2 linked regions of the Homo sapiens genome follow. The protein of the gene in region 1 interacts with the protein of each later gene in a pairwise test. Each region holds a gene or a part of one and is shown on either strand. Other genes may lie near its edges.

Region 1 (3,912 bases):
GTTAATGTGTTGAGCCACTCCCTTATTATCAAGTTTAATTTTTTTAATTGCACAGAATGCAATGATAAATATACACATGTAATTTATTATGAGAATCTCTTGCTTATTTCCGTCTGATAAAAATCCTACAAGCAGCTGGGCGCGGTGGCTCACGCCTGTATTCCCAGCACTTTGGGAGGCTGAGGCAGGCGGATCACGAGGTCAGGAGATTGAGATCATCCTGGCTAACACGGTGAAACCCTGTCTCTACTAAAAATATAAAAAAATCAGCCGGGCGTGGTGGCAGGCACCTGTAGTCCCAGCTACTCAGGAGGCTGAGGCGGGAGAATGGCATGAACCTGGGAGGCGGAGCTTGCAGTGAGCCGAGATCACGCCACTGCACTGCAGCCTGGGTGACAGTGTAAGACTCCGTCTCAAAACAAACAAACAAAAAATCCTACAAGCAGAATTACAAGATCGAAGGGTATATGTATATTATGAAAGCCTGATGTATACTATCAACTTGTATTCCAAAAAAGATATACACTCAGTAGTATATGTGGGTGTCTAGTCTTTGGTTTGTTTTGATTTTAAAATGCTCAGATGGTATAATGAGAAATCAACTACCTTCTGATTAAATGTGTGGTTTTAGTCCCTTTTTTTGTTTGTTTTTGTTTTGTCTTGTTTTTGAGACAGAGTCTCCCTCTGTCACCCAGGCTGGAGGAGTGCAGTGGCACAATCTCGGCTCACTGCAACCTCTGCCTCCCAGATTCAAGCGATTCTCGTGCCTCATCCTCCCAAGCAGCTGGGACTACAGGCGTGCCACCAAGCTTGGCTAATTTTTTTTTTTTTTTGTATTTTTAGTAGGGGGGCGGGTCTTGCCATGTTGGCCAGGCTGGTCTTGAACTCCTGGCCTCAAGTGATCCACCCACCTCAGCCTCCTAAAGTGCTGGGATTACAGGCATGAGCCACCACGCCCAGCCAGGTTTCATTTTTAATATGAAAAATCTTTATTTATTTTTGAGACAGTCTCACTCTGTCACCCAGGCTGAAGTGCAGTGGCATGATCTCGGCTCACTGCAACCTTCGCCTCCCGGGCTCAAGCAATTCTCCTGCCTCAGCCTCCCGCGTAACTGGGATTATAGGAACACGCCACCACGCCCAGCTAATTTTTGTATTTTTAGTAGAAACGGGGTTTCCCCATGTTGCCCAGGCTAGTCTCGAACTACTGACCTCAAGTGATCCTCCCGCCTTGGCCTCTCAAAGTGTTGGGATTACAGGCGTGAGCCACCGCACCCAGCCTGAACAATCTTTAGGTTAGGAGTATTCCAGCCGGGCGCCGGGCTCAAGCCGGTAATCCAACACTTTGGGAGGCCAAGGCTGGAGGATCGGTTGAGCCCAGGAGTTCGAGACCAGCCTCTCTACAAAAAAAATAGAAAATAAACTAGCTGGACGCAGCGCAGACCCCTCACGGCGCCCCGAGGTGGGAGGATCACCTGAGTCCAGCGAGATCGAGACTGCAGTGAGCCGTGTTCGCGCCATTGCACTCCAGCCTGAGCAACAGAATAAGACCCTGTATCAAAAACAAACAAAAAGTCTTCTGGTGCAAGGCCTCACTGTAAGGTCCCTGGGTTCAATGCTCCGCGTTCTGGGATGTGAATGTGGAAAAGTAAGTGCCAAGGTGGGTGTCTACCTGAGCTCCATAAGGACTCAGTACTTAGGATGGGAGCATGGCTCTGGGTTCCATTCCTGACCCCTCTGTGGCCTCAGACTCTGCCCGGGAGAGGATGAAAAGCACAAGTCGGATGCACTCTATAGTGATCGCTGTGATACTCATTAAGAGTCTTACTCCCTCGACTCCGACAAACTCAAGGCCAAGCTATGGAGTCCATCTCATGCTGACACCGTCAGTTCTGAGCAACTGTAAAATGGGGACAGGGTGGCCCGGGGGCCTACTGACCTGAGGTGGGGGCCGCGACAGCCCGGCCGCTGCGGGGTCAGCCTGCGGTCTCCGCCTGACTCCAGCTCTCCTGCGCCCCGCAGGCCCTGGGCGCTACCCACGTCAGTGAGTGCTCACAAGTCTGTGAGGTAGGCGGCGCCACAGAGAGAAACTGAGGCGCGGGAGCCCAAGCCACTTGTCCAGCGCCTCAGCCGAGCGCGAACCGCGCTCGGGGATGGCATCCACACGGCCCGGCCCCAGGCTCTCCCTGTCAGCGCCCGAAGGCCCTTCGCACCTCCAGGGGGCGCCGGCCTGCGCGCACGCGCAATGGTCGCAGCCGCGTTCTCTTTAAGAGGACTCCTTTTGCCTCCGCCGACCCCTTCGCTTCCGCTCCGCGTTCCCACAATGCAGTGCGGCTGAGCGCCTCGGAGCCCGCGGGGACGCTGCGGGGGGACCCGTGCTGAGGCGGCGGCGGCGACGTGGGCTGCGGCGGGCCCGCGGCGTCGGGCGGTGCGGATGTCGGGCTGGGCGGACGAGCGCGGCGGCGAGGGCGACGGGCGCATCTACGTGGGGAACCTTCCGACCGACGTGCGCGAGAAGGACTTGGAGGACCTGTTCTACAAGTACGGCCGCATCCGCGAGATCGAGCTCAAGAACCGGCACGGCCTCGTGCCCTTCGCCTTCGTGCGCTTCGAGGACCCCCGGTGAGGCCCCCGCGCCCCTGCCCTCTCCTCCTCGGTGCCTGAGGCCCCCGCCTTCCCTGCTGTCCCCTCCCCCAGGGCTCCCCTCCCCCCGGCCTCCCCTCCCCCCGCCTCCGCGCAGACCCCTCACGGCGCCCCCTCACGGGTGGAGGATGAGGCAGCCTCTCCTCGCAGGCCCGGGCCGTCCTTCGCGCCGTCGTCACTTCCTTTATTTTTATTATTCCAATATTTTACTTAGAAACCCAAAAGCTGAGCCTTTGGAGGGCCCAAGCCCGCCTGCACCGGCCTCGGGGGGTCCAAATGAGCCTTGTCCGCCTCCTGCCTGGGGCAGCACCGTAGGGGGAAGCGGCCGCGGGGCAGCGCGGGGGTCGCCGTTCGCCCTTCCCGCTCGCCTCTCCCCCGGCCCGTGCTCGCCGTGGCTGGAGAGCAAGCTGCAGGGTCGCGGATGCCGCTGGAGGTCGTGGAGGGATCTCTGGTGGAATAGCTCGCCGTTCGCGCGCCCCGCCCCGCAGGCCAGGGCCCGGGCTTTGTAAAGGGATCACGGATTCGGGAAAACTTCTAAAACAGCCGGAGTGGGGCTCTGATTTCACTTCCCTCCTTTGATGAGGGAGGCTTGGCGAGATGCTAAAGGTTCCAGGGATTTGGAAACTCTAGATTCCTAACCCCGCTCTAAGGAGTGCTTGTGATTTTGCAAACAGCGTCGGCCCTCAGGCCGGAAAAAGCCCAGGAACTTTCAAAACTGTGGTTGGTGGTGGTTAGCAGCTGCGGCGCTGACCTGGTCACTCCACTCCGGCCAAATAAGAGCCCGCACCCTGTTTTCCTAGCATCATTTGCTCCCGGGGAACGCGGAATGTTCGTAGGGTGTCCGACCTACCTGGGGTGGACGTATTGATAGGGCAAGGGGAGCATCTGAGGAAGGGCAGGCAGGAAGCACCGCGAGGCGTTGATGGCTGAAGAGTCGACTCTGACAGCTCATCCCTAGTATCTCCTCATTTGCCTCAAAACCGGAACTGGGCATTTTTACCCCTAAGCCGGAGAAGGCTATGCCTCGCTTATTTAGTAACCGTGCCATTGTGGTTTTTCAACAGTTGCTATGGGTCAAGTGCCATGGTGTGTATTTAGCTTTTTTTCTTTCCTTCTTATTTTTTTAGATTGATAAATTAGGGGTTTCACCATGTTGCTCAGGCTGGTCTGGAACTCCTGAGCTCAGGTGATTCTCCCGTCTCAGCGGATCAAATTGTTAGGATTACAGGCGTGAGCAACCCGCCCAGCCTGTATTTAGTATTTTTAACA
Region 2 (3,912 bases), on another chromosome or scaffold:
GCACAATCTTGGCTCACTGCAACCTCCGCCTCCCATGTTCAAGCCATTCTCCTGCCTCAGCCTCCCAAGTACCCTGGACTACAGGTATGAGCCACCACGCCCAGCTAATTTCTGTATTTTTAGTAGAGATAGGATTTTACCATGTTGGCCAGGTTGATCTCTAACTCCTGACCTCAAGTGACCTGCCCGCCTCGGCCTCCCAAAGTGCTGGAATTACAGGCATGAGCCACCATGCCCGGCCACAATATTTTACAATTTAATGTCAAATTTGAATGTGGGCTGGGCGCAGGGGCTCACGCCTGTCATCCCAGCACTTTGGGAGGCCGAAGAGAGCAGATGACTTGAGGTCAGGAGTTCAAGACCAGCCTGGCCAACTTGGTGAAACCTTGTCTTTACTAAAAATACAAAAATTAGCCGGGCATGGTGGCACACGCCTGTAGTCGCAGCTACTCAAGAGGCTGAGGCAGGAGAATTGCTTGAACCCAGGAGGCAGAGGTTGCAGTGAGCTGAGATCGCGCCACTGCACTCTAGCCTGGGTGACAGAGAGAGACTCCATCTCAACAACAACAACAACAAATAATTAAATGTTCCTAATTGTAGGTTTGTTATGTTCTGCTATCCTGTCTTTTTCTTTTTCCAATGAACAATTTATGAATATTGACACATTTTTAATGATGTGGAAATTTTCAGAATTGTAAATGTTTATGTATTTAAAACTGGTTGGAAAAGTACTGTCTCAAAAATGTTAATAAAGCTAGCAGTCTAGCTTTATTAATATTCATTTATTCAATAGCTCTGACCTTTCTTATCCTTGGTTTACCCAGCTCTGAAATGGTTGCAAAGATTACTAAAAATATATGTAAGTTACTTTCATAAATTAGAAACTAAGAAGTAAAAATTACTTTCAAAAATCTGCCATTGGCCAGGTGCGGTGGCTCAAGCCTGTAATCCCAGCACTTTCGGAGGTCGAGGAGTGCTGATCATGAGGTCAAGACATCGAGACCATCCTGGCCAACATGGAGAAACCCTGTCTCTACTAAAATACAAAAAATTGGCTGGGAGTCGTGGCATGCACCTGTAGTCCCAGCTACTCAGGAGGTTGAGGCAGGGAGAATTGCTTGAACCCGGGAGGCGGAGGTTGCAGTGAGCTGAGATGGCACCACTGCACTCCAGCCTGGTGGCAGAGTGAGACTGGGTCTCAAAAAAAAAAAAAAAAAGTCTGCAATCATAATTACTTACAGTTTAATCTGGAATTTAGTACTCTATTCTATTTTCAAAGCTGCTATAGGGTATGCTGTCCTTTGTAGTTCCACTTTTAGCAGAATTGAACGTTTTTCTAACGGGTACAGATCTTTATGCTTGAGACTGTGTGGAAACCTTGGACTTGAGCTCCACTCTCAGTTATTTTTTGTATTTGCTAAAACTTAAATACATTCTGTCCACCTCTAGCATGATACCTGGTATGTGATAGGAACCCAATAAAAGTTTGGCTTTGATGGGAGTGTATGTTTCTACATTATTTTTGGAGGGTAATTAGGTAGTATCTTTCCAAATTTTAAGTTTGTATGTGTTTCATTCCAGACATTCTACTTCTAGGAATTTAGATATAGTTGTATATATGTATAAGGATGTTCACATTGCAGCATTGTCTGTAACAAGATTTGAAAAGAACCTGAAAACAACTAAAGGTCCATTAATATTGAACTGGCTAAATACGTTATGGTACTTTTAATTATGTTACTCATAAGCAAGTAAATTGCCTATAGCCATTAAAAATAGAATCTATGTATGCATAAATTGACTGGGATAATCAGTGTTTAAGGTATACTGTAGAATATGTACAGTTACTCCTTTTGTATAAAAATAGAGGATATACATATATGTGAAAGTAAATATGTATACAAAATATGCAAAATGTGAATGTAAGCGCTGGTAAATATCTAGAAGAACACACAAGGAACCGGGGCGTGGGGCGGATCGGGCAGAGGGACTTCCCTGTGCCTCACTGTTTGAATTCTGAAGGGTGCATACACGCCCTTATTGACCTGTGCTACTGGCCTCTGGCTAAAGAGGGCGCTGTAGCCACCAAAGTCCTGTTTACAGATCAGGAGTCTCAGTAAGCCAGCGTGGCTACGCCATCACGACCGGCGGTGGCACATGCGCAATAGCGAGACGCTGGAGCGCGGCGTAGGTGGCTGCCGAGTCTTTTCCTGTTTAGGGTCTTATCCTGGCATTGAGGGCGCCGGACTGGCGCTTTTGGCCGACTTGGCATTGGGTGGGCGGCTTCTTGGGACCCACATGAGCCAGTGGCATCATCCCCGCAGTGGCTGGGGCCGGAGACGCGACTTTTCAGGACGCTCCTCAGCCAAGAAGAAGGGCGGAAACCACATCCCCGAAAGGTAGTATGTCTTGGTCCCTTGGCGTGGCCTTTCCAGCTCGTGGCTTCTGGGTCTGGGCTTCATCGTTTGTGGTCTCTGCCTCTCGCCGTTGCCATCGCAAGCTTGACTTGTCCGCCGCTTGCTTTGAGGCTTTGACCCTCTGCGCCACCCGCTGTAGCTGAAAGGGGCGATGTCTGTGATGTCCTGTGATTTCTCCATATTCTTGTAAAAGGGAGGTTCTGGCCATTGCTCTTAGGTAAAATACGGAAGGATTGCTTTAAGGTGGGACTGTTACTGTTGGGGACACTCCTTAATTCCCAAAATGGAACCTCCTCAATTCCTTGTTACGTTGGCACGGAAAGTGTAATGGTTTGAGTTAGGAACCCAGCAGTAGTAGCGCCCTGAGATCTCACATGGAAAGTTGGTTTGTATTGTTTCCAGAAATCACAAAGAGCATACTTTGTTACTTCCTAACAGGCCTCATTTGAAAGATAACTCCTTTATACGTACAAATGATTAATTTTGAGACTTTGCACGTAGGTGCATTGAACTGTTTTTACTCCTTGAGACCATCCTCCACCATCTCATACCTCAATAAATCCTCTTCATTTTATCTACTATCTTTTGACTGTCACTTTCTGTCAGTACCCTAATACAGGTCTTGCCTGACTTATTGCAGTGGGGTTCTAATTAGTGAATCTCCTGTTTGTTTTCTTCCAATCCGTTTTTTTGTTTTTGTTTTTGGGATGGATTTTTGCTCTTCTCCGCCAGGCTGGAGTGCAATGGTCCAATCTCGGCTCACTGCAACCTCCGCCTCCCGGATTCAAGCGATTCTCCTCCCTCAGCCGCCCAAGTTGCTGGGATTACAGGCGCCCGCCACCACACCCGGCTAATTTTTTTTGTATTTTTAGTAGAGATGGGGTTTCACCATGTGGGTCAGGCTGGTCTCGAACTCCTGACCTCAGGTGATCCACCTGCCTCAGCCTCCCAAATTGCCGGGATTAACAGACGTGAGCCACCGCGCCCGGCCAGTTCCTAGCATTATTAAGTGAAGTTCACAGTCCCTCTTCTAGCAGGTTTTCTCTTAAAATATGAACTTGAAGTTTCCTACTAATTGAACTTTATGGCATCAGTCGTATGAAAACTAAAAGCGTGAAGTGAAATAATTGAATTTAAATTATTTCAGTGAATATGTTTGTATTAATGGCACTTTAGTATCTGGTACTGGGCCAAGTTTAACAGGGATACAGAAGTTCTGGGTATCTCCGGTTTTATATAGGCCTTATTTGAGTTGTACTGTTGTGTTGGCTTGTGTTCGTTTTTATGATGGGGAAACAGGAGAGAAGGACGGTATAGGTCGTTACTTGGTGGGGTTTAATAAGTGGAGTGGCGAAATGCAAAGCAGAGAGGAGAGAGGACATGTTGTGCGGGCTATGATTCCCATTTTCAAAAAGTCTTATTTTGTGCAAGGAAACAAGGCTAACATACAATTTGGCTAACAAAAAATATATCTAATAGGTGGAAAGACTATCTC

The links.
Region 2: the proteins of SRSF9 (region 1) and DUSP11 interact in a two-hybrid assay, tested with the Homo sapiens proteins (one study listed by BioGRID).

What each region holds. Positions count from the first base shown.
Region 1 is NC_000012.12:120,468,132-120,472,043, reverse strand, and holds the start of SRSF9 (serine/arginine-rich splicing factor 9), read left to right. Parts: upstream 1-2,295; 5' UTR 2,296-2,434; coding exon 2,435-2,622; intron 2,623-3,912. UniProt on the Homo sapiens protein: Plays a role in constitutive splicing and can modulate the selection of alternative splice sites. Represses the splicing of MAPT/Tau exon 10.
Region 2 is NC_000002.12:73,778,361-73,782,272, reverse strand, and holds the start of DUSP11 (RNA/RNP complex-1-interacting phosphatase), read left to right. Parts: upstream 1-2,298; coding exon 2,299-2,399; intron 2,400-3,896; coding exon 3,897-3,912. UniProt on the Homo sapiens protein: Possesses RNA 5'-triphosphatase and diphosphatase activities, but displays a poor protein-tyrosine phosphatase activity. In addition, has phosphatase activity with ATP, ADP and O-methylfluorescein phosphate (in vitro). Binds to RNA.